Regions from separate parts of the Homo sapiens genome. Here region 1 is reported to be linked to region 2. Evidence: microRNA targets listed by miRTarBase, many of them from high-throughput screens and not tested one by one. Region 2 holds a microRNA gene; the other region holds the end of a gene's coding sequence.
What was found. Region 2 holds the annotated microRNA hsa-miR-331-3p (GCCCCUGGGCCUAUCCUAGAA, at 2,708-2,728, shown strand). A microRNA usually pairs through its seed, bases 2 to 8, with sites in the 3' UTR of a target mRNA and lowers its output. Matches are read on the target gene's strand: a 7mer-m8 pairs with bases 2 to 8, a 7mer-A1 pairs with bases 2 to 7 and ends in A, and an 8mer does both.

Region 1: the mRNA of CDKN3 is a reported target of hsa-miR-331-3p. The part of its 3' UTR that is shown has no 7-base or 8-base seed match.

The regions. Positions count from the first base shown.
Region 1 is chr14:54,419,840-54,423,426 of GRCh38, reverse strand. It overlaps CDKN3 (cyclin dependent kinase inhibitor 3), which reads right to left. Exons shown (of 8, transcript NM_005192.4): 8 at 3,209-3,435. The coding sequence ends at 3,349. Among named protein-coding and RNA genes, the nearest start is that of CNIH1, 20 kb to the left of the region's middle.
Region 2 is chr12:95,305,773-95,309,762 of GRCh38, forward strand. MIR331 (microRNA 331) reads left to right here and starts at 2,648; the gene lies at 2,648-2,741.

The sequences.
Region 1 (3,587 bases), not on the chromosome of region 2:
TTAGGTAGAGAAAATACTTTTCCCTGGAATGCTGGAATCTTTAACTGGACAATTATATTTTAGTAACTGACATCTCATGTTTCTTTGTTATAGAATAGTTGATGTTTTCCCGTATACTTAATATTAAAGTGGTTTAGTCGAGCATTTTAAAAAATTTTTAAATTTTTTTTTGAGACAGGGTCTCACTGTCTTCCAGGCTGGAGTGCATTGGTGTTATCATGGCTCACTGTAGCCTCTACCTCCCTGGGCTCAAGTGATCCTCCAACCTTAGCCTCCCAAGTAGCTGGGACCACAGATGCATACCACCACACCTGGTTAATTTTTGTATTTTTAGTAGAGACAGGGTTTCATCATGTTGCCTAGGCTGGTCTCGAACTCCTGAGATCAAGCGATTTGCCTGCCTTAGCCTCCCATAAGTGCTGGGATTACAGGCATGAGCCACTGCGCCTGGCCTACTGAAGCTTTTTAAATGTAGAGGCTTAAATAGCACTTGCCGTGGGAATTGAGAGATGCAAGTACTTTCAAAATTCAGTTGATTATTAAAGTATTTGATTAATCCATGCCAATATTTTCTCTCAATTTTCTAAGTATTCATGAATAAGTTATGTATTTATGTTGAGAGAATGATAATATATATGCTTCTCAACTTGCAATGGAATTATCTCCGGACATCATAAGTTGAAAATGTAAGTTGCAAATGCATTTAATGCACCTAACCTACCAAGCATCATAGCTTAGCCAACCTTAAACGTACTCATAACATTTACATCAGCCTACAGTTGGGCAAAATAATCTAACACAAAGCCTATTTTATAATAAGGTGTTGAATATCTCAAACATTGTACTGTACTGAAAGTGAAAACAGAATGGTTGTGTGAATACTTGAACTATAGTTTCTACTGAATACATATTTCTTTCATAGCATTGTAAAGTTGAGAAATCCCAAGTTGAACCATTGTAGATTGGGGACTGTAAAAGATTGGCTAATGTAAATATCAATGACTGTCTAAAGTTTAATAGAAATTGTGATTTTTAAATTGTGTATGGTTATAATACAAAAATCATGAAGAAGGCCAATCTGTTATTACAGTGTGTACTTAAAAAACATGCCTTCCTTGGGCCGGGCACGGGTGCCCACGCCTGTAATCCCAGCACTTTGGGAGGCCTAGGCGGGCAGATCACGACGTCAGGAGATTGAGACCATTCTGACTAACACGGTGAAACCCTGCCTCTACTAAAAATACAAAAAATTAGCCAGGCATGGTGGTACGCGCCTGTAGTCCCAGTACTCAGGAGACAGAGGAAGGAGAATCGCTTGAACCCAGGAGGCGGAGGTTACAGTGAGCCGAGATCATGCCACTGCACTCCAGCCTGGGCGACAGAGCGAGACTCCATCTCAAAAAAAAAACAACAAAAAAAAACTTTTCTTGCTATAACTTTTGGTATTAATTATATGAGAAAATGAAATCCCTAGGTTAACCATTTAGATACTGCTGGGATATGTGATCCTCCTACCTTCCTTAGTATCCTCATAAAATGTTAAGTTCTAGAAGCAGCGTTATGTATAAAAGTACAGTCAGCCGTCTGTATCTATGGGTTCTAAATCCGCTGACTCAACCTCAGATTAAAACTATTTGAAAAATAAATACTACAAATAAAACCAATACAGTATAATAACTACACATCATTTACATTGTATTCGGTATTATAAGTAACTAGAGATGATTTAAAGTATACAAATACTATGCCATTTTATATCAGAGACTTGAGCATCCATTTATTTTGCTGTTGGGGGTGGGGTGGGGGGTCCTGTAACCAATCCTCTGAGGATAACAAGGGATGACTCTATTAATATATTGATTTTATATTACAATACATACTAGTGCTCTGAAATTCCCAAACAGGCTGGTCATTGTTTTGCATTATTTTGTAATGAAATTCAAGCAGTTAATCAGCAGCAAGAAGAGTAGTGTGAGACAAAATAAGATGTTTAGTCATTGTATGATTTTTTTTTTTTTTGAGACAGAGTCTCTCTGTCGTCCAGGCTGGAGTGCAGTGGTGTGATCTCGGCTCACTGCAACCTCTGTCCCCTGGGTTCGGCTGACTGCAACCTCTGCCCCGCCGGGTTCAAGTGATTCTCCTACTTCAGCCTCCCAAGTAGCTGGGATTACAGGCGTGCACCACCACGCCTGGCTAATTTTTGTATTTTTAGTAGAGATGGGGTTTCGTCATGTTGGCCAGGCTGGTCTCAAACCCCTGACCTAAAGTGATTTGCTCACCTTGGTCTCCCAATGTGCTGGGATTACAGGCGTGAGCCATGACGCCCAGCCAGTCATTGAATAATTATTTAAAAATGAAATTTTGATGTAGTGAAACTTTGTCTTTTGTGGAAGTGCCTATGAGTCTGCAACCTGGTGGTCATTGCCAAATTGCCATTGGTTCACACTTGTAATTACCAGTAGCCAAGAGAGCCATGTGACTACTGTAAGCCCTACTGAAACCACTGACTGTTAAAACAAGTGTGTTTGTTTGACACATTGTGTGTGATCCTTGTCTACAGCCCAAATGACTGTTTTGGGTAACTCAAAGTTGAATTTAAAGATGAAAAAAGATAGGTTTCATAGTATAGGGGGAAGTGAAAGAGTGAGAGAGTTGGAAATTGTTAATCTGTAGCTAAATTCTTTATGAAATAAATGTGAAAGGATTAAGCTCATTCCGTGTAGTTCCTAGGGCGGACAAAAGGTGGAGCAGCTGTCTGAACCAGTGAATTCCTTGTCTCTGAAAATGTTCCAGCCCATAGTGAATAAACACCCTTGGGGCTGATCCAGTACTGGGAGGGGGCGAGTGGAAGACTCACAGGATCCTTTTCAATTCCGGAGGTCTATGAAGTAAAAAGCGGAAGAAGTTTTGGGAGGAATAGAGAGGGAGGGGGACATCATTTAAAAGTAAGTTTGGGCACTCATACCAATTCTCATACTTACTACTTTGTCATATGCTACCCAGTGGTTACAAACAGTAAAATGAAGTAAAAGTGCAGTACTAAGTATTAAAAATAGGCATTCAAATATTTTTCCAAATGCATGTTTTCAGCATTACCTCCAGGTAGAATATACCAGAACAACCAATTCATTTCTAAAAGGAAAATTGCATACCAATTTTCCTATCCCAATTTTCCTATTCCTATAAGAAATGAAAGAGACACAACGAGTTTTGTCAATAAAACTTTAGGAATATCTGCACATGTACATTTACATTCAAGTTGATAACACTGGTGGTTTCATTTCAATACAAATTATGCTAGAGAACTGACATTTCAGACATGGTCATATATATGCTATTTGAATTCCTTTATCTTGATACAGATCTTGATTGTGAATCTCTTGATGATAGATGTGCAGCTAATTTGTCCCGAAACTCATGAAGATAATTGTATTGCTGAAAAAAGTAAAGATACATTGGAATACACTGTAGAAAACTAGTTATCAGTGTGGGCACAATATTAGCAGGTATCAGGAATAAAAAAAAATACTTGCTAAGCACAATTCTACATCTTTTTGGGTAAGGAAGCATTTGCATCATGGGGAAGT
Region 2 (3,990 bases):
CCACCACTCCGGCTATTTTTTTGTATTTTTAGTAGAGATGGGTTTTCACCGTGTTAGCCAGGATGGTCTCGATCTCCTGACCTTGTGATCTGCCGTCCTTGGCCTCCCAAAGTGCTGGGATTACAGGCATGAGCCACAGCGCCCAGCCGGCTTTTTTTTTTTTTTTTTTTTTTTTTTTAAGAGAGAAATGTATCTTCATTTCCAAGACATGAAAATAGATTAAGCCCTGAAAAATAAGAAAACATTCACTATTAATGTCACAGAGACCTGAGAAGTAATAAAATTTATAGACTATAGGCAATTATACCACAAAGAATTTATTTTTTGATTATGCTAGTTTTAAAAACAGGGTCTTTATTTTTATTCAGCTATAGTAAGCGGACGTTAAAAGCTTACCAAAAGTTATCAGTGTTAGATCTAATGATATTGGCAGATATTTGAATGACTAAATTCCCACTGTCATTCTGTACTGGGCATGATTAAATTGTAATTTAATATTTAATAATTAAGCAGGATCACTTTTCTCTCTTGAATGAAAAATAAAATTTGCACACTATAATATTTACAAGTAAAAGTCAAATCTGTATAGAAATGGATATCCTAGCATCAAACAACTTATTTTTAGCAACATGCTGATTATTTTAGTAACCATATATTGACTCATGTTTTCATTACAAAGTAACTGTCAAATCAGTCTGTTTATTTTATGACCATGCCTCATAGTCGGCATTCAGTTATCCATGCTAATGGAAGGGATCTGTGGTATAATAATCATAAAAGATAAGTGGTCCAGGCTGGGCGCGGTGGCTCACGCCTGTAATCCCAGCACTTTGGGAGGCCGAGGCAGGTGGATCACGAGGTCAGGAGTTCGAGACCAGCCTGACCAACATGGTGAAACCCCGTCTCTACTAAAAATACAAAAATTAGCCGGGCGTGGTGGTGGTACCTGCCTATAATTCTAGCTACTCAGTAGGCTGAGGCAGGAGAATCACTTGAACCCGGGAGGCGGAGGTTACAGTGAGCCGAGATTGCGCCATTGCACTCCAGCCTGGGTGACAGAGTAAGACTTCATCTCAAAAAAAAAAAAAAAAGATAGGTGGTCCAAACCAGTTTCTTGAGTTGAGACTGCCATTATAGAAGAGATAGTCAAGATACCAAAGCCAGGTCAGTGATAAAAGAAGAAAACTTCTGAGTGTAGTTGTGAGAGGAAAGTGATTCTATTCAGTGTAATTGCTGTAAACCAAAAAGAGGATTAATTGATTCAAGGATTCACACATGTAAAAGTTTAGCATGAATAAGGAGGAACTGATTTTATAGATATTCTAAAATGTGTGATAAGCTAGGACGTAGTGGCTCACACCTACAATCCTAGCACTTTGAGAGGCTGAGGCAGGAGGATCTCTTGAGGCCAGGAGTTCAAGACCAGCTTAGGCAAGAAACAGCAAGACTTGGTCTCTACAGAAAAACTTAAAAATTAGCTGGATGTGGTGGCACACACCTGTAGTCCCAGCTGCTCAGTAGGCTGAGGCAGGAGGATCACTTGAGCCCAGGAGGCCACAGCTGCAGTGAGCCATGATTGCACCACTGCACTCCAGCCTGGGCAACAGAACGAGAGACCTTGTCTCAAAAATAAATAAATGAAAATGGGCTGGGCGTGGTGGTTCACACCTGTAATCCCAGCAGTTTGGGAGGCCCAGGTGGGCGGATCACCTGAGGTCGGGAGTTCAAGAACCGCCTGACCAACATGGAGAAACCCCGTCTCTACTAAAAATACAAAATTAGCCGGATATGGTGGTTCATGCCTGTAATCCCAGCTACTCAGGAGGCTGAGGCAGGAGAATCGCTTGAACCTGGGAGTCGGAGGTTTTGGTGAGCCGAGATTGTGCCAATGCACTCCAGCCTGGGCAACAAGAGTGAAACTCTGTCTCAAAAAAAAAAAAAAAAAAAAAAAGAAGGAAAATGAAATGTGTGATAAATTAAAGTGCATATAGTATTTTTTATGGTATATATTTTAATGTATTTTAGCTTGTCAGCAATGAAATTAGTTTTATCTCTATGTATTGAACTTCATTTAGCAACATATTATTGCAATAGTACAGTATTTAAGCTGCATATTCTCTTGACTGCATTATCCTTTAAAATCAGTATATTCTGTGAGATATGGCTATGGATATATATATTTCCTCTCCTATTTATATCCTAAGATTTTCTTAAAGGATAATTTTACTGTTTTAGGCTTTATGTTTTTCAGTTTTATATCATTTCCTAAAGCTTAGCTACCTACAAATGAATATTATTGAAGAATTTTTCTAAAACTAAAGCATGTCTTTTATAAGTTTACTCTTTTATAATATCCTAAACAAAGCATATCCTTTTCCCCTTCCTTAAGTAAATTCTTAAGGAAATTAACTTCATTTCTAAATCAAAGTATTTTCTGCACTTTTATTGCACCAATCTGTTACCTTCTGTTCATACCATGACTTAAATAATGCTTACTCAGGCACAGTACTATCAGCTGACAACGTACAGAAGGCTCCAGAAATGTCACTCCCATCCCTTAAAGGTTGGTATATGGTCCTGGTACAGTCGTGGAGGTCCATATGGGTGAAAAGCCCAGAAGTCTACCTGAGCTGAAAGCACTCCCAAGGAGTTTGGTTTTGTTTGGGTTTGTTCTAGGTATGGTCCCAGGGATCCCAGATCAAACCAGGCCCCTGGGCCTATCCTAGAACCAACCTAAGCTCGCGCATCATTCCTGGAACATCAAGAGTGTGAAGACTGAAGATAACCTGAGGCCTACCAGACATCCTATATTCACCAAGATTCACATTTTTTGGTATGTGTGCCTACATTTTAGCAAAAATTGGTTGGTTAATCCTTCTAAAATTAGAGGGATGACATTGGGTAACAAAGTCTTCCCAGCCTTTGGCATTATAGTAATTTCTCGCAATAGAAATTCCATACAGATATTATTGCCAGTGAAGAGAGCTATTCTTGTTTATTATCAGTTCTATATTTTTAGCTGAAGCAACTTAGCCCTAAAAAACCCCAAAATCAACTTCTTCCTCCAAATTAAACTCTCCCCCAAATTTAATGGTTTCTGTTTTCTTAAATGTTTTTCTACTTGACACTGTTATGTCAGTCTCATGTAACTGAATAATTGTTCATAATTTCTGAAGAGCATTTAGTCTTTGCCATCTGGCTTCAGTGCCAAATGATTTTCAATTCTTGTTTTTGGAGACTAATGACTTTTTCCTTAATTTATTATCAAATTTGCCACATTTTAGAGCTCACTTTTAGAAGTTCTGCTATGGTTAATGAAAACAAGCTAGAATGACACAGTAGAAATTGGTTAATACGTCACATTTTACATCACTATTTTGTAGAAGATTTTTAGTAAGTTTCTCTATTTTTATTCCTTGCCACTCTGGATTTTACAAATATTCTGACCTAGTTGATCCATCACATGGTCTCATATCACAACTGTTGCATCGCTATATTCACATAGATGTTTTTCTGTTTAATTTAGAAGACAGTATTTCTGAAAAAGTATGAAACGACCCCAAATCCAAAAGTTATGGTGCACAATGAAAATGTATGCTTTTAATAATGCTGGCTTCTGCAGTAGGTGTAGACCATGTTTCAAATAACCACAGACTAATCAGAAACTCCACCTGTGAAAGGAACTTGAAATTGTGCTATTCCTCCAAGCTTATAACACCAGCAAATTGGGTCAATAGGTTATTCCTTTAAAATAGGACTATGAGCCTACAGAGGCTCACTCTGAAGAACTCAGCCGTGGAGTTAGTTCTGTACTATATCCATCACAACAGACATGCTTCATCCCATAGACTTCTTGACATAGCTTGAAATGAGTGAACCCATCCTTGATTTATATACATATATGTTCTCAGTATTTTGGGAGCCTTTCCACTTTTTTAAACCTTGTTCATTATGAACACTGAAAATAGGAATTTGTGAAGAGTTAAAAAG